3 linked regions of the Homo sapiens genome follow. The protein of the gene in region 3 interacts with the protein of the main gene of each other region in a pairwise test. Each region holds a gene or a part of one and is shown on either strand. Other genes may lie near its edges. The genes, in order: ZNF33A, RPS6KA5 and MAP3K20.

Region 1 (5,036 bases), on a different chromosome or scaffold from region 3:
CAGATAATTCATACAGGGTGGAAACCTTATGAATGTTATGAATGTGGGAAAACCTTCTGCTTGAAGTCAGACCTCACAGTACATCAGAGAACACACACAGGGCAGAAACCCTTTGCATGTCCCGAATGTGGGAAATTCTTTAGCCATAAGTCAACCCTCTCTCAACATTATAGAACACACACAGGGGAGAAACCCTACGAATGTCATGAATGTGGAAAAATCTTTTACAATAAATCATACCTAACTAAACATAATAGAACACATACAGGGGAGAAACCCTATGAATGTAATGAATGTGGAAAAGCCTTCTACCAGAAGTCACAACTCACTCAGCATCAGAGAATTCACATAGGGGAGAAACCCTATAAATGTAATGAGTGTGGAAAAGCTTTCTGCCATAAGTCAGCTCTAATTGTACATCAGAGAACCCATACACAAGAAAAGCCCTATAAATGTAATGAATGTGGAAAATCTTTCTGTGTAAAATCAGGACTTATTTTCCATGAGAGAAAGCACACGGGGGAGAAACCCTATGAATGCAATGAATGTGGGAAATTCTTCAGGCACAAATCATCACTCACAGTACATCACAGGGCTCACACAGGAGAGAAATCTTGTCAATGTAATGAATGTGGAAAAATCTTTTACCGTAAATCGGAACTTGCTCAACATCAGAGATCACATACAGGGGAAAAGCCCTATGAATGTAACACATGCAGGAAAACTTTCTCTCAAAAGTCAAATCTCATTGTACATCAGAGAAGACATATAGGAGAAAACCTTATGAATGAAATGGATATTAGAAATTTCCAGCCACAAGTCAGCCTCCATAATGCCTCAGAGTATTCACACTGTGGAGAAAGCCCTGATGACATCCTGAATGTTCAGTAACTATCCACAAACTCACCTTATGTTACTCCAAAGTAATAGTAGGGGATAAACCCATAGACTACAACAATTATAGGACAGCTTTTGTTAGGAAGTGATATTCTATGTAATATCAGATGGTTAATACGGGCATAACACCTTACAGATTTTTTTTGAATTTGTGAAAGTTTTTGGCAAAAATGCAAATAAGGTTATGTTAGAATTTACACTGAGGAGAAAATTGTCAATTTAAGAAATCTAAAGTGAAAATTTTGCTTAGAAATAAAATACGACAAGTTATGTTTTGAGTTTGATGCCATAATAGTTTTTAGGGCACCTAACAATAATTTATAGATGTATATTGTGGAATGTAAAGCTTTAAGAACTTAAACAAAGGTAATAATTAAAATAACCTCACAAGAAGTTTAATGAGTAGAGAGAATTCCCATGTACACTTCACCAAACTTCCTCTAAGGATAATGTATAATCATAGTATATGGTCAAGTCCAAGAAATCGATGTTACCTTGCTGGTAGATAGAGACTTAGTCAGATTTTACTATGGTTTGCATGCACTCTGTGTGTGTGTGTACGTGTATGTGTGTGTGTGTGGTTATATCAAACTTTTACGACTTTTACATTTGAGTAACCATCAACACGATTAGTTTACAGAACTGAAAAGGAATCTGAGATCTGTACTGTATCAGGATTACAAAGGATTTAGCCTCAAGTAGTTCCCTTTTTGTATTAATAACCACACGCTTTCTGCAACCCTATCCCTTGCATCCACTTGACTATGAAGTTTTTTTAAAGCACAGATAAATTGAATAATCAGGGCAATAGCATTAAGCACATCTGCGAATTATCCCTGAAGTTCAAAAGACTTATATATGTATAAGTGGTATGTGATATAAATCGTGTGTTTCATATGCATAATGGAATTTAACGTAATTGTGAATAGGAAGTAGGTATCCTAGTTTAGTAGTGGTTACATTATCAGGCCCATCCCAGATGTTTGTGATGTCCTGAAACAATTTAAAAGGAGACCCACAGAGCTAATGTTTATCCATTTAAAAGGTATAAATCAAAATAACAAATTATCTAAAAAAAATCTATCCTGTACATGTGAAGATCTAGGCTCGCCTCCATGTTACTCCCTTTCTCTTCCTACCTGTGGCTCATGCCATGCCATGAAGTGCCTAGGGTACATATGTGAACATTCCAGCCTTCAGCATAAGTGGTAGTCCAAATTTTCTTTAAGCAGCTGCTCTCCAAGACAGGGCCCTGGAAAGGCCCACACATACAGCCCAGGGCTGCCCAGGGCTGTTGGACTGTCATTTCAAGGCTCATTGTCCCCAGACAGGGATCTGGGCCCTCAGACTTTTGAGAATATGAAGAGGAGGGTTGAGGCTGGAGCAGAACCAGAATCAAGCTGGTGTGGGGCTTTTATTGATAGTGTGAAGATTGTACACTATATTACATGATCAGATCATACAAATAATCTAAGATTATACAGTCTAGTGATCCTAGATTACACAAGTAATCTAAGCTTCCACTTTAGGAAACTAGAAAAAGAAGAGCAAATTAAATCCAAAGTAACCTGAAAAAACATTAGAGTAAAAATCATTGAAATTGAAAAGAGAAAATCGATAAAACCCAAAACTGGTTCCTTGAAAAGGTCAGTAAAATTGATAAACCTCTAGCTAGCTTAAGAACAAACAGAAGACAAATATTGCTAATACCAAAAATGAAAGAGGCCATCACAGCTAATCCTATGGTCACCAAAAGGATTAGAAAGAAACATGGACAACTCTGTCCATAAATTTGATAACTTAGCTAAAATGGACCAATTCCTTGCAAGACGCATTCTCTCAAAGCTCACACAAGATAGACCTCAATAGGCATATGTATCTATTAAATAAACCAAAGCAGTAATTAATAACCTTCCAAGGCCAGGTACAGTGGTTCATGCCTGTAATCCCAGCACTTCACTTTGGGAGGCTGAGGCGGGTGGATCACAAGGTCAGGAGTTCGAGACCAGCCTGGTCAACATGGTGAAACCCCCTATCTACTAAAAATACAAAAAATTAGCTGGGCATGGTGGCATGCGTGTGTAGTCGAAGCTACTCAGGAGGCTGAGGCAGAAGAATCACTTGAACCTGGGAGGTGGATGTTGCAGTGAGCTGAGATTGTGCCACTGTACTGCAGCCTGGGTGACAGAATGAGACTGCATCTCAAAAAATAATAATGAAACTTTCCAAAACAAAGTGCCAGGACCAGCTGGGTTCACTGATGTGTTTTTGAGATACTTAAGGTAGAAATGATACCAAGTCTCTACCATCTCTTTCAGAAAATAAAAGCAGAGATAACACTTCCCAACTCATTTTGTGAGGCCAGTATTACCCTAATAGCAAAACCAGGCAAAGATATTACAAGAAAGGAAAACTACAGATCAATATTTCCATTGAACACAGATGCAGAAATCCTCAAAATATTAGCAAATCAGGAATGCAAGGCTTGTTCAACATTTGATATTCAGTGTAATCCATTGCATGCATTAGCAGCTCAAAGATGAAATACGATCATATCAATAGGTACAGAAAAAGCATTTGACAAAATCCAATATCCATTCATGTTAAAACCTCTCAACACAGAAGGAATACAGGAGAACTTACTCAAGTTGGTAAAGAACATACTACAAAAAACCCTACAGCTAACATTATCCTTGATGTTTCCAACTAGACACTTTCCTACTAAGATCAGGAACATGGCAAGGAACACCACACCACTGCTTTTCAGCATTGTACTGGAAGTGCTATATAATGCAGTGTTAAAAAAAAAAGAAATAAAATGCACATAGATTTGAAAGGATGAAATACAACTTTGTTCACAAGTAACATGATTGTCTTTGTAGAGAATTCTAAATAACAAAAACCCTGCTGACATTAATAAGCAATTACAGCAGGATTGCAGGATACAGTCCTCAGGTAGATGATAAAAAGGAATTGGACATCAAGTCATTAAAAGACACGGAGAAACCCTAAATGCTTATTGTTAAGTGAAAACCAATCTGAAAAGGCTTTCTATTTTGTATGATTGCAATTATATGACATTTTGGGAGAGGCAAAACTATTGAGCCAGTGAAAGGACCAGTGGTTGCTGAGAGTTGAGGGGAAAGGAGGGATGGCAGGTAGAGAGGTGATTTTTAAGGCAGTGAAAGTACTCTCTAGGGTACTGTAATTTGTCAAAACGCAGAGAATGGAAAACAGTGAACGGAAAACACAGAGTAAACCCTAATGTCAACTCTGGACTTCAGTTAATAATAATGTATCACTGTTGGCTCATTAATTGTAACAAATGAACCATAATGATGCAAGATGTTAATGATTGGGGAGCCTGTGGAAGATGGGAGGGGAAAGGGTTATATGAGAATTCTCTATACTTTTTGCTCAACTTTCTGTAACCCTAAAGCTACTCTAAAAAATGAAGTGTATCAAGTAAATAAATAACCAACCAACCAACCCTGAGGAACATCTTGTTTCTGTACTAAGGTGTTCTTTTGTTAGTTGTATGTTTCTGACTGAACATGTAAATCATCATTAGTGAACAATTGAATTGCTTTTGTACATCCTTAATATATTTTAAATTATGGTAACTGTGACCTGAAATTAAGGACTAGTATTTTTGGTTCTCTTGACATCTGAAGCCAATAGGGCCTCAAATGACCTAACCTCATTTCCATCCCCACTCTGCTTCCACAGGTGAGGTAACTTAGCAGACAGTCCTCCTTGTCAGGGGGGCCAGGCACAATTCCTGCTTATTCCTAAGTAGTAAGATTTGCTTCCCTGCCAGCTCTTGGAATTATCACCAAACCCCTCACATCCTCCCACAGCAAACAGTGGTCACTGTACTCTGGATAATACAGCTGCTCGCCACAACCCCTCCTTTTCCACTCTGCTCCCTAGTCGAACCCTGTGTGGCTCTTCCCAGCATGTGGTGTCCTTCTCACCTTTCTGAGAGTTGGTGTGACTGACAAACTCACCTAGATCTTATCTGTCCAGTGTCAGGCGTTCAGTGTTCAACCTTTCTATAGCATTGGGGTGGGGATCCTTCCTTCACCATCAGGGTGAAAAGGAAGCAGTTACAACCATTGGCATAAACAGGATGGCCC
Region 2 (7,123 bases), on a different chromosome or scaffold from region 3:
TGGGGGGTGTCTAGAAGCTACAAAAGGAAAGTAAATGGGTTGTCCCTTAGAGCCTCCAGAGCAGTGATCCTCAACATTTTTTTTCTTTTTTGTTTTCTTATTTTTTTGAGACAGGGTCTCACTCTATCACCCAGGCTGGAGTGCAGTGGTGCAGTCTTGGCTCACTGCAACCTCCGCCTCCCAAGTTCAACGGATTATCCCACCTCAGCCTCCAGAGTAGCTAGGACTACAGGCGCACAACACCACGCCTGACTAATTTTTTGTATTTTTTGGTAGAGATAGGGTCTCACCATGTTGGCCAGACTGGTCTCAAACTCCTGACCTCAAGTGATCCACCTGCCTCACCTTCCCAAAGTGCTGGAATTACAGGCATGAGCCAGGTCCGCAACTTTTTTGGCACCAGGAAATGGTTTCACGGAAGGCAATTTTTCCATGGACGAGGGGAGGCAGTAGTGGGGTGGGACAGGCATTAGATTCTTATAAGGAGTGCTGCAACTTTGATCCCTCGCCATGCGCAGTTCACAATAGAGTTTGTACTCCAGTGAGAATCTAAGGCTGTCGCTGATCTGCCAAGAGGTGGAGTTCAGGCAGTAATGCTGGCTCACCTGCCACTCACCTCCCGCTGTGCACCTGGTTCTGCTCAAGAGGGAACCAGCTCTGGTGACAGCTTGACTTTAAGCCAATGGGCCTGATTTTGGACTTCTGACCTCCAGACTGCAGGATAATAAATTTGTATTGTTTTAAGTTTGTGGTGATTTGTTGCAGCAGCAATAGCAAACTCATGGAGTACGTGAAACGCATATCATGGCACACAAAATGAACTATGCTATTGCACAAAGGCTGAAGACCCACCATAACCAATTTCACCCATTAGTTGAAGAAAAGACTGGATACAGGGATGATCTAGGCAACTGTGCCACCATTATGAGAAAACCCAAGATACATTACAACTGCATATTAGATTGATAATGTATTTATACTAGTTTGTATAGGATTATATCATGTGACAATTTATATTTTAGTAACTCCTGAATATATAAATAGCAAAACATCTACTTAATTTGTGACACAAATAAAAAATTAGAAATGTTGTTCATGGGACCTGACATTAGTCTGAAGGTCAGAGATCAAGTATCTTGTCTGGGATGTAGTTATGGGCACAGCTGCAAACCCAGAGGAGAGCATCTAAGATCACCCGTTGATTCCTTGAATGATGTGAATTTCCTCTATATCATCTTCAACAGGAGACTGTCTAGTGAGCCTCTTCTTAAGCACCTTCGTGGCCAGGGGACTCATTACCTCCTCTTGTGTCGAGTGGCTTGATGAGGCAAGAGGAGGTAGAGGATCAGGGAGAGCGGTTCCCCCTGAGTCCTTGCTTCAGTGGCATTTCTTTTCTGACTACAAGAACCAAAGAGTGAGTAGAGGATGATGCCATTTTGGGATGCTTACTGCCAGATGTGATTCTGCCTTCCCTAAGGCAGTAGTTTAAAGTAAATAAAAGCTTGTTGGGCTCTGAAGTTGGACTGTGTGGATTCAGATCCCAGCCTTACCACACTTACCAACTGTAAGACCTGTTACTTAACTTCTATGAGTGTCCATTTTCTCACCTCATGGACCTATGGTAAGGACTGAATAAGACAATACATGCAGAGTGCCTGGTACAGAACCTAGACCACACAAGATATGTGATAATAAATGGCAGCAGCTATTATGGTTATGGTGCTACTGCTGCTGCTGCCTGGTCTCACCATGATGTATCATTCCTGGCAATAGCACTCGAGGATATTTCAATGTGGTAGAGAACTGGGCCCCATCGATCCTAGGTCACAGATATTACAACAGCACAACAAAGAGAGCCCAGAACTGGAGTACAGGTTCTCCTTATTAGATTCGCATTGACATGCTATGTGACCTTAGACAAGTTTTATGAACATTCAAAATCTCAGTTTCTTTATTGGTAAAATTAGGGCAAAGCACATTCAGGATTGGTTTGTGCTCTTGTGCCTCCAAGTTGTCTTAAGTAGGACTGCATCACCCCACCTGGTCTCAGGGGCAGAGAAGTGTAATGGAGCAATTTCTGTCATGTGTGAGGTGAACAGACACGAACTGGACACACTGGCATCCTCCCATAGTTCCTGCTGCAAAGCAGGACTGAGAGCAGAAGAGGGGGCAGCATGATCTGGCCAGGGTTCTGAGCAGAATTTACCACCTGGAGCTAGAAGATAAAAGGAGTATCTTTGCTTTCTGCTTCCTATTTGTCCTTTAGCTTGCATTAATTAGGCTCCAGGCTCTCTCAGTTTTACTCTAGAAGTGAAAGGGAAGTTGGAGGCTCAAAATTCCTGAGTCCTGAGAGGTACTCCAGGATTAAGTGATGGTGGGTAGAAGCGGCACTGGCAACAAGCACATTGTAGCCAGTGACTGCACCACTGAGCTCCTGGCCCTCCGTCTTCCTGTCATAGGTGGTTAACTGCTGAGTGAGAAAAGCATGAGAGGTGAAGGGATAACCTGATTTGGGGTTGGGAAACAGTGTGTGGTTGGGGAGGGGTTTGAGAGGGTGGTTTCACTGCCCTTTCTGGTGGCTGGGTGATGTTCTATATCCCTGACTCTGACCCAGCAGCACCAACAAAACGCGTGAAAAGTACAACCCTGTAAGTGAATTAGTACACATGGGAAAAAAAAAAAAAAAAAGTAGGATACCTGATCATGAAAAACTTCATGCAACTTCACAATATTGGGGTGTCCTTCACAGAGTTTCAGAGCTGTTATTTCCTTTTGAGTATTGGCTTCCATCCTGCAAGATGAGACACTTAGCATCCACATGTCTCTTCAAGAAAGTTTTTATATCAGTACTGCCCCAAGACTAATTTTGTCTTATTTACAGTGCATTCAGAATATACATGTTACAGTATACTGTAATGAGGTTTCCATGAAAGTAATGAATTATACCACACACTAGAAAAAGTAATATTCTGGAGAAAATTATTATTTCTGAGTCAGAAAAGTACAAATCATATGAGGAAATGAATGCTCTACTTTCCTGACAATTTAGAGTAATAAGAATATGCAATCTTAATAATAATCATCAGTTACCAAAACAACTAGATGGCTCTCAAAGCTATCAGTAGCTTGCTAAATAATTTTAGAGAAAAATATTTCAAATACACAACTAGTAGAAATGGCAATGGCTGCCAAAATCACTATGTGAGCCTGATTAAATATGTCACTGTCACAAAGACGTTTTCTCTAGATAAACTCAAAAGCAAATAAGACTATGATTTATGTCTAAAATGGATTACTTTATCAGAAAATATCAATTAGAGCTAAAAGTATAATGGACCAACTGATGAGCCAAGTGGTTAAACCTTTGGGTAAGAAAGTCTTACAATATAATACTGGTTTCAATTAAAATAAATATCTTTTAATTTACAGAATTCATGAATACCTAAGAAAGAATATTATATTAAAAATGGTCATACCTTTTGCTGATTATTTTGACTGCAAAAGCTTGGTTACTTTTTTTATGCACACACTTTCGACAAATTGAAAAACTACCTTCTCCCAGGGGTTTGTCCTTCAAATCTAGGTCATAGTGTTGATAGAATGGAGAGTCCTGTCAAGAAATCAACATCATTTAACTTCAGAAAATGTCAGTAATACACAAAGGATCAATAAAATTGTAGAGTAAAATAAAATTATTAATATTAATAAACAGGAATAGAATACATTTATAATCTAAAATTCATCTTTATAGGTAACTTCTATTTTCATCTAAATAATTATTTAAGATACATAATTCTCTATAATTGTAAAAAGAAGTTCATTCAACTTGACGTTAATTCTCTAGGGAAAATATTGCTATATCCCACTTTTAAAATTGCACTTTAGTTGAATTACTAGACTTAAGAACATTAATTAGAGTTGGTATTTAAACACTCACAAAACCTACAAATATGTCATATAAGTTACCACATCTATATACCTTCATCATTGCACTCCTGGCAACATTTGTCACTCCAGGACGTTCAACTCCCATGTGAAACTGAAGAGGGTCTATGACAGCTGCATTACGCTTGAATAGGATGGAAGGAGCAACAAAGGAATAGCCCTAAAAACAAGACAAAGAAAGATAAAGAAAAACAACTTGCAGTTTTCCAGTTTAACACAGATTAGATTGTAATGACTTTTTTTCCTTAGAAAAACACTCAAATATTTGTTGAGATGAGTCTAATTTTATTTTATTTGCAATCTAAAATGCAAGGTTATTTCAAATCATTTGAAAAATGCTGTTCAGAAGGATATAATGCCATCTTCTGGTAGAACTAAACCAATTCAAAAATAAAGGTAGAAAAAGACTTCTTCCCTATTCCACCCCCAAAATCAGACTCATAGATGAAATTCTCCTGGTTTGCTGATGAAATTTGTTTACAAACATAACTAACTTCTCAAAAAAGGATACAGTCAAGGTATTAAACAAAGTGGTCTTTTTTTTTTGAGATTGAGTCTGGCTCTGTTGCCCAGGCTGGAGTGCAGTGGTGCGATCTTGGCTCACTGCAACTTCTGCCTCCTGCGTTCAAGCCATTCTCCTGCCTCAGCCTCCCAAGTAGCTGGGATTATAGGCACATGCCACCATGCCTGACGGGGTTTCACCATGTCTCGAACTGGTCTCAAACCCCTGACCTCAAGTGATCAACCCACCTCGGCCTCCAAAAGTGCTGGGATTAAAGGCCTGAGCCACCAGACCCAGCCACAAAGTGGTCTTTAAATGCTATTGTTTTTCAAACTGGAAAAATGGCAAGTCTCACTAAAGTTAGTTTCTAATTTAGCAATTATTTGATTCTTATTAATATCTTCAGAATAATTAAATTTAAAATTGAGTTTTGGAAAGGAACAAAGTCTAATGGCAGAATGATGCTCTGAGCTAAGTGGTACAAAGACGGATGATTAATCCGTTCAAGCTAGAACATTCACTAATCAACAAACATTTAAAAAAATGTTCAATAAGTGCCCAGTCACATACTAGACAGTGATAAGCAAAGAAGAAAAGACACCGTCTGGATGGCCAGATTAAGCCATACTAAAGGTATACTTATAGAAGTCAAAGAAGCAAAGCTCTGATGCCATTTAATAGTTAGAATATTTTATCTTGTGTGACAAATGCCCTTTTCTAAATATAAAATCTAAATCTTTTTTTAACAGCAGTTAAGATTAATTACTGAAGGTAAAGAATAAGGTAACATTGTGAACTAAAGAATGTTTTTATATGGGGGTTGAGGGGCACGGTGGCTCATGCCTAGAATCCCAGCACTTTGGGAGGCCAAGGCAGGAGGATCGCTTGAGGCCAGAGTTCAAGACCAGCTTAGGCAACAAAGTAAGACCCTGTTTCTACAATTTTTTTTTAATTAGGTGGGTGTGGTGGCATGCACCTGTGGTCCCAGCTATTCAGGAGGCTGAGGCAAGAGGATCCCCTGAGCCAAGCAGTTAAAAAGGCTGCAGTGAGCTATGATCATGCCACTGCACTCCAGCCTGGGTGACAGAGTGAGACCTTGTTTCTTAAAAAAAAAAAATTTTTTTGGCTGGACGTGGTGGCTCATGCCTGTAATGCCAGCACTTTGGGAGGCCAAGGCAGGAGGATCACTTGAGGCCAGGAGTTCAAGACCAGCTTAGGCAACATAGCAAGATCCTATCTCTGCAAAAAATAGAAAAATTAGCTGGGTGTGCTGGTTTGCACCTGTGGTCTCAGCTATCCCAGAGGCTAAGGTGAGAGGATCACTTGAGCCCAGGAGTCTGAGGCTGCAGTGAGCTAGGACAGCACTGCTACACTCCAGTCTGGGCATCAGAGTGAGACCCTGTCTATATAAATAAAAATTTTTAAATATGAATAGAGGTAAAATAAAAGATTATTGTATTTTCTATAAAAGAATCTGAACAAAAATAAAATTTCAGGTATAAAATTAAAACTTCCCTTATATCAAAAATAAATGCATAAACAATATCTGCTATTGAGCAAACTATAAGCTTCGGTTAACAATGTGCAATATTTCTGCATTTAATAATTTAGAGGATATTAGAGAATCCCATTTTTATGATGCCAACAAAACTACTTCAATATGGGAAATTTAATCTTTTCTTTCAAAGGACATATGGCCAATGTGCATGTGCACAGGATGGGAAATTACCTGAAACAGCTTCTCAGAACTCTGGGGCAGGGCTGCGGGAGAATAAGTGGGATCCATTTCTGTGAACTCTTCTGCAAAGTTACTCACATCTAATTCATCTCGAATGACTGGCTTAAATGGTGCAGGCACTTTTTTGGCGGCTAAATCATCCCAATTTATTTTCTAAAACAAAGAAAGTTGGTACAAAGTAGAAATCAATAGTCAAAATGTACTTTCTAAGAATAACAAAGATAAATTAGGATTTTGACTGGTAGGGAGAGAGGATAAAAATAAGAGAACATATTTCAAATCAATAATAAAAAACATATTTTCTCCAAACAAGATCACAGCAGTTTATAGCTCCAACCAATGCTGTGCCTCAAAGATGAGACTATCGCTGTTGAATCTCAGAGTGTCCTCTGGGGGGCACCAAGACACCCTAGTTTACCTTTAAAGACAACAGAAGAATACTTTTGTCCTGAGCCTCCTCAGAAAGGTGTTAAGCCAAAAAGAAAACAAAAAACCCAAAACAAAATAAAAAACTGAAATAAAGGGTTTCCAAAGGCTCTACAGATGTGGATATTAGCTCTAAAAGAATGTTCCTATTTTCTAGAGGCAGTGTTACTTAGCTCTCTGCCTGCACTTGCTTTTCCTCCTGGGCATCCAGACAGACTGGAAAATAAATCCACTGTAAATCAGGCATGTGCTTATGTCTAGAAGTTCAAATGATACCATCATATGGATGTGATCACTCTTTTCTTATTCAACTGTGTTCAAGCATTTTAAACACTGCCTCTTATGTCCCCCATAGAATAATGCAAGCCCCTTTTCCCTCTAGGTCACTTACTGAGTTATATTACTGAAATCCAACCCTTTGCTCTGTTTCTTTGTGCTCCTTCTATCATTTAAAACAATCTCAGATAACACTTACTGAATTAAATCCTACAGGTCTCCTACTACCACATTTT
Region 3 (7,123 bases):
TAGCCAGGCATGGTGGCGTGCATCTGTAATCACAGCTACCTGGGAGGTTGAGGCAGGAGAATTGCTCGAACCGTAGAGGCAGAGGTTACTGTGAGCCAAGATCGCACCACTGCACTCCAGCCTGGACAACAGAGCAAGGCTCTATCTCAAAAAAAAAAAAAAAAAAAAAAAAAAAAATTGCTTTTACACAAAAAAGGCAATTTTGCTCCACGCAACAATGCTCAGTTTTAGTTTTGTAGGATTCTAACTGTTGTTTTATAAACTCTCAAAGCTGTTTTAAATGTTAAGTATCTACCATACAATACTGAAGGGTAAGTTAGAGCAGAAATGTCACAAAAATCAAAGTAAAATAAGGCATCACAACTCTGTAAATGTTGAAAATCAATAATTTGGTGGTTGAATCCAATCATTTCACTACTTGAGTAGAATGTCAAAAAATTTTTAATTTAAAGTTTTCCTTAAATTAAAATTCAAAAACATTTAACTATTAACCAAATTGCTGAAAGCATATATAGCAGCATCACCTAATTATGAAAAGTGGAAACATAAGAAGGTAGGAAATCTTAAAGAATTATTTTACTTTTTAAAGTTTTCAATCTTCTAGTCCAAAAAAATAGACTTAAGTTTCTCTATTCACAGACCTTCTATTTTGCTTCTTGATTTTTCAGATCCATGTTGACCTCAAATAAGTCATTTACCTTTTCACTGTTACTTTTGCCCCAAATTAAAAACAAAAATGACCCCACTACAGTTCTAATGTTAAAAAGCAAGGTTTTAGAATTAGATTGATAGGAGTTTGAACTCTCCCTCCACCTCTCGGTAACTTTAACAAATCACTTTTTCTCAGACTGTGGCATTTCCAGATGCATAAATAAAAAATTTCAAATCTTTTCCATTCAATGTCACAAAACTGATAGCCCCAAAGTTATCAAGTTTGCATAGTATTTGACTTCATTGATACATCTCACTTCCAAATAAGAGATATTTCAACAGGGAAGTAGCATGATTCAGGGTAAAGACCCCTACTAGAGAGATCTATGAGCAGATCTGTTATTAGCTACTTGGGCAAGGCACTGTGTCTCTCTGACCTCACTGTTCTCACTGGCAATAATACCAGTGCTGTGAAAGTGCATACGTGAGCACAGTGCCTAGTATATGGTATACATGCAATTAATGGAAATTATGGTTTTCTCATTATTTTAATAACCCTTGATATCATATTTAGCCATCTATTCCTTCAGTTTTTATGGTCAGGTATGCTCTCAATAGCTTTCCTCTCCCCATTTTCAGAATTGTTTTATATTATATCTCTTAGTTTTGTAGAGCAATTATTAACAAATAAAGGTGCTATTGATCCCTGAATCCTTTCCCTCTCTTTGCCTATTTTCTAATTCTTTCTCATTCCTCTGTTTAACTGCCGTTTTTGGTTTTTGTCATTTCTGAAAGATCTTATTAGTAAGTAATTATAATTTCTTTTAAGCTTTTTTCATAATGTATTTAAATTGCTAAAACACAATACTTTTCTTTTTTTTTTTTTGCACTTTTTGGACATTAGCATTGCTAAGATCTATTTATTCAATGATAGCACTCACTTTGGTAGGGTGCTGGAGCATCCCCTCCTTCCCCAGTGACCACGGTCTTCTTTCAGACATTATCTGCTGCACAGTCAATTGCACGTCTAACCCAAGAAAACTTAACCTGATTATCCAATACCTGCAAGTGATGATTTTTTAAAAAAAATTAAATCTACTTTGGCCGGGCACAGTGGCTCACACCTGCAATCCCAGCATTTTGGGAAGCAGAGGTTGGAGGATCACTTGAGCTCAGCTGGGGCAACATAGGGAGATCTCATTTCTAAAAGTAAAAATAAAAACCTACTTTATGAAAGGATTAACTTTACTAGAAAAAAGGTCTTTGAACTTTCTCTGGATGTTTCTATCTTGTGGTTTTATATGGGCCTATATTTCTGAATTTAGAGCCTTCCTCTTTTCCTGTCCCTAATTCATACTTTCCTTTCCCCCTTCTTCAAAAAGTAAGGTTGCCAGTTTACTTTTTATACAATATAGGAAGAAAAACTTACACGTTTTATCATGACCTGGATGTGACAAAAAAGATACTTTTTGAAAAGAGCTTTCAATATTCAGCAAATTATTTTGCCAAACTTGCTGCCTTGATATTTATGCTAGTATTATTTCAGCCTCTTTAACATAGATCAGTGAATAAATTAATAATATGTGCTTTGTCATCATGTGTATAAAAAGAACACCACTTGGAATCACTGTTCTGCAATTTTTTTCCCCTGAGTCTTATCTTCAAAAAAATGAGGAAAGCTCTGGTTCAGTGTATTTGTCCGTAACACCAAGGTCAAAGATTCAAAGATTCTATTCCTCAACAGGACTGCTGTTCTACTATTTTTTTTTAATCACTAAAAAAGATAAAAGCTGGCTGGGTACAGTGGCTCACACCTGTAATCCCAGCACTCTGCAAGGCTGAGGCAGGAGGATCGCTTGAGCCCAGGAGGTCGAGGCTGCAGTGAGCTATGATTACGCCACTGCACTCCAGCCTGGGTGACAGTGAGACTCTGTCTCAAAAAAAAAAAATAAAAAATAAAAAAATAAAAGTTGCAAGACTAGGTATAGGAACAGAACCAACTTGTACTGTATCTACCAGATATTTCCTTTCTTCCTCCAAGGCTGCTCCTAGAAAAATAGTGTATCTTATACAGAGTAGGTTGGGTTCAGTAAATAGGACTTCAGGCATAGATATCTGAGAGAACCCAACTTTAAATAAGAATCCAAAAAACAGAATAGCCATTGTTTCATATTTTCCCCCTTCCTCTATCTTTACCATATAAAAGTAATGTAACTCTCTAGTTAGAGCAATGGTAAGAATAAAAATAAGCTAAACATTCTTATTGAAATATTAAAGTAATTTAGTAGTGAGGCATTCTTATTGAAATAATTAAAGTAATTTAATAAAAGTCAACTTCCACAACACACTTCCTTACCAAAAGTATTGTTACCAGAAGTAAAAGATGGGAGGCACAGGAATGTAGTTGGTGGGAGCACTTAACGCCACAGAAATGCTGCGTGGAAACATGTCTGTGCTCAAACAGAAGCCCAACAAGGAAACATGAAGTGGATACAACCTACGGCCACGGCATAGGCCGCTGCGTGGGCTTGTTGTGTTGAGTAGCTGGGAGCTTCTTGCAGCATGAGGAAGAGAATGGGGCCAGAGTTGAATAAAGTGAGGGTGCACGGAGAGGGGAGATTTCTAGGGCTTGGCCAGAAGAGGAATTCACAGGTGTCAGGACTGGGGATGAGGAGAAAGCCGTAGCCTATGAGTAAACAAGGCTCACTTCAGTTCGCTACCTCCCACCTATCCTGCCCCCACCCTAGGTCTTGCTGCTACTCAGCCCTTGTTTGTACCCCAAATCGTTTTCTGTCAAATAGAAAGTATCAGACCATCCTGGCTGCTGACAGACAGGTACAACTTTGGACTGAGTGCCTGGAATGAATACTCCCTGAGAAGGGTGAATGCAAGAGTTAAAACATGGTAACCTCAATGTAAGATGAAGGGTGAAAGGAATGGGGATGGTAAAACTAGGGAAGACTAAGACCTTATATTATGTTTTGATGATCAAGAGGCAAGGCTATCTGTGGATGAAAGTTACAGAAAGAATTTCTGGTTCTTTGGGAGGCCAAAGTGGGAGTATCGCTTGAGGTCAGGCATTTAAGACCAACTTGGGCAGCATAGTGAGATCCCATCTGTACAAAAAATGAATAAATAAAAATTAGCCAGGTGTGGTGGTTCATGCCTGTAGTCCCTGCTACTCAAGAGACTGAGGTGGGAGGATAGCTTGGGCCCAAGAGTTCAAGGTTGCCATAAGCTATGATTATGCCACTGCACAAAGTGAGACCCTGTCTCCAAAAAAAAAACAAAGGATTCCTGGTTTAGAGTTGGCCAACAAGAAAATCTGCCACCCTCTTTAGTAGTGAGTGACCCATCACCAAGAGCGTTCAATGGGATATGCGGTGTAGAGTGGGAGTGGGAGACTCTTGCATCAGCTAAGAGGGCAGAATGAAACCACTTTAAGACCCACTCCAACCCTGTTGAGTTGATGACTAATCTACTATAAAGTATAGACGGTCTCCCTCCTTTTCTGAGGGAAGCAGTCATGAACCCGACACCAAACATCATGGAGAAGCACAGTGAACCACATCAGTGATGGAAATAAAGGAAACGATTTGGCCATCTTCTTCAATTTCTCCTCCCAAACTGGGTGAGAAGCTAAGAGCCACATTCCAGGTTTCTATCCTAAAACTTTCCTCTTCCTTCCCCCCAATTCCCAAAGCAAAGAGATCTCTTTGTCTTGAAAGCCATCGTATAACCACCTAACATCAAAACTCTTTGGATGATGATCTACCCCTATTCTTTTATCAGCAAAATGGAATTGCACTACCCCATGCAGTATTGGGCTGCAGAGCTTAATGGTGCAGGACTCTTTATTAGGACCAATCCCATGTTCCTCGTGTGCTTATTCCCATACGTGGTATTACACAGTACTGTGCAGAAGGTGATATGAATAAACAGCTGTCCTACAGCATCAATTTCACTTTAACACTATGGGGAATAAGCCAGGCAAGGTAGCACATACCCTCAGCCCCAGCTACAGGGAAAGTTCAGGTGGGAGGATTGCTAGAGCACAGGAGTTCAAGGCCAGCCTGGACAACATAGCAAGACTCTGTTTCTAAAAAAAAAAAAAAAAAAAATTTGTCTTTTTTAAAATATGTGTCTGTATCGATTTGTTCAATTTAAGTAAAACAGTGTAGGACAGAAGAGAATGCAAAATCCACATAAATTTTTAAGATTAAATATAAAATTTTAAAGCAAGTACTTGCTTGCATTGGGGTATCTGTGGCTATACGGACAAATTCTTGAAGGAAAACATTCATTTATCCCCACAATAGAGTACTTTGGTAGAAAAGTTTAATAAGTAAAGATTTATTACATGACGTGCAGACAGCAATTCTTTCCTTTTCTTTTTGGTTTTCTTAAATGGAAGCCTGGAGATGAGTCCAGAAAGAAGGGTATTGGGGCCTTGCTCAAAATTAGCTATAAAAATGGTTCCAAGTGGTTCTAAAGCACACTTTAGAAACACTTATACTCAAAGCAGGAGAGTAGTTATGAAAACCTACATACCCACTACATAAGTATAACTTGGGAACAGGACAGGGTACCAAAGGCAAGCCTTAGCTGGAAGAGCTGAGTGCTATGGTAGGAATGCTCCCACCAAAATTCATGTTGAAACTTAATTACTTAATCGCTAATGTAACAGTACTGGGAAGCAGAACCTTTAAGAGGTGATTAGGTCATAAATGGATTCTCACTGTTATCCTGGGAGTAGGTTAATTATCTCAGGAGTTCACTTTTTCTCTTTGTCTTTCATGGCTTGCTTTCGCCTTCCACCCTTCCACAATGGGTGATTCTCGCCAGATGCCAGAGCCATGTACCTGGACTTCCCAGGCTCCAGAACCATGAGCCAAATAAATTACCCTTGTTCCTTGTAAATTACCCAGGCTGTGACAGACTGCTCTAGCAGCAGAAAACAGACTAGGACAGTGGGCAAGCAGCTCTGCGTATAACTTGAGAGATGTAGTAAAACATCCTTCTTTACCACATTGATACAGTGGCTGAAATTTCAGGCACTGTTACAAGCATTTCTATGTGCTTTCTCATAAAGTCATGCACCACATAACTATGCTTTAGTCAACAATGGACTGCATATATAACAGCGATCCCATAAGATTGTAATAAAGCTGAAAAATTCCTATTGCTGAGTGATGGCACAGTTTCCTAACATCATAGCACAATGCATTACTCATGTGTTTGTGGTGATGCTGGTGTAAACAAACTTATTATGCTGCCAGCTGTATAAAGGTACGGCACATACAATTATGTACAGTGCACAATGCTTGATAAGGATAATGACTGTGTTACTCATTTATGTATTTACTATACTTTTTATCCTCATTTTAGAGCATACTCTTTCCACTTAAAAAAAAAAAAAAGAAAATTAACTGAGGCAGGTCCTTCAGGAGGTGTCCAGAAGAAGGCATTGTTATCACTGGAGATGGGGAGATGGCAGCTCCATATACATTACTGCCCCTGAAGACCTTCCAGTGAGCCAAGATGTGGAGGTAGAAAACAGTGATATTGACGATCCTAACCCCATGTGGGGCTAGGCTGATGTGTGTGTTTCTGTCTTAGTTTTTAACAAAGTTTAAGAAGCAAAACAAATTTTTTTTTAAATTTAAAAATAGAAAAAAAATCTTACAGAATAAGGATATAAAGAATTTTTGTATAGCTGTACAATGTGTTTGTGTTTTAAGCTAAGTGTTATTTCAAAAGACTCAAAAAGTTAAAAAAAAGTTTAAAGTTTATAAAACAAGAAAGTTACAGCAAGCTAAGGTTAATTTATTATTGAAGAAAAATGTTTAAATAAATCTAGTAGAGCCTAAGTGTACAGTGTTTATAAAGTCTACAGTAGTGTACAGTGATGTCCTGGGCCTTCACATTCCCTCACCACTCACTCACTGACTTGCCCCAAACAACTTCCAGTCCTGCAACCTCCATTCATGGTAAATGCCCTATACGGGTGTACCATTTTTTATCTTTGATACTGTATATTTTATACTGTATTTTTACTGTGCCTTTTCTATTTTTCGATAGAAATACTTATTACTGTGTTACAACTGCCTATTCAGTATAGCAGCATGCTACATAGGTCTGTAGCCTAGGAGCAACGGACTATCTCACACAGCCTAGGTGTGTAGTAGGCTATAGCATCTAGGTTTGTGTAGGTGCACGCTGTGGTATTTACACAACTACAACATCACGTAACAACACAGTTCTCTCAGAACGTATCCCCATCATTAATGGACACATGACTGTACTTATCCTTAGGAAGCAGGTACTACTGTTCCTAACTTACATGAGTGAGAAAACTGAGGATCAGGGGTATGAAAGTAGCTCAAGCCAACTACCTTACAGGTGACACAACTTGTGTCAAATTCAGGCCTGACTCCAAAGTCATATCATTGTTTTCTACCATATCATGTCT

The links.
Region 1: the proteins of MAP3K20 (region 3) and ZNF33A interact in a two-hybrid assay, tested with the Homo sapiens proteins (one study listed by BioGRID).
Region 2: the proteins of MAP3K20 (region 3) and RPS6KA5 interact in binary tests that used the Homo sapiens proteins (3 or more experiments, as listed by UniProt).

What each region holds. Positions count from the first base shown.
Region 1 is NC_000010.11:38,055,670-38,060,705, forward strand, and holds the end of ZNF33A (zinc finger protein 33A), read left to right. Parts: coding exon 1-891; 3' UTR 892-4,418; downstream 4,419-5,036. UniProt on the Homo sapiens protein: May be involved in transcriptional regulation.
Region 2 is NC_000014.9:90,896,632-90,903,754, forward strand, and holds part of RPS6KA5 (ribosomal protein S6 kinase alpha-5), read right to left. Parts: intron 6,339-7,123; coding exon 6,177-6,338; intron 4,106-6,176; coding exon 3,980-4,105; intron 3,611-3,979; coding exon 3,477-3,610; intron 2,792-3,476; coding exon 2,698-2,791; intron 1-2,697. UniProt on the Homo sapiens protein: Serine/threonine-protein kinase that is required for the mitogen or stress-induced phosphorylation of the transcription factors CREB1 and ATF1 and for the regulation of the transcription factors RELA, STAT3 and ETV1/ER81, and that contributes to gene activation by histone phosphorylation and functions in the regulation of inflammatory genes.
Region 3 is NC_000002.12:173,078,839-173,085,961, reverse strand, and holds part of MAP3K20 (mitogen-activated protein kinase kinase kinase 20), read right to left. Parts: intron 1-7,123. UniProt on the Homo sapiens protein: Stress-activated component of a protein kinase signal transduction cascade that promotes programmed cell death in response to various stress, such as ribosomal stress, osmotic shock and ionizing radiation.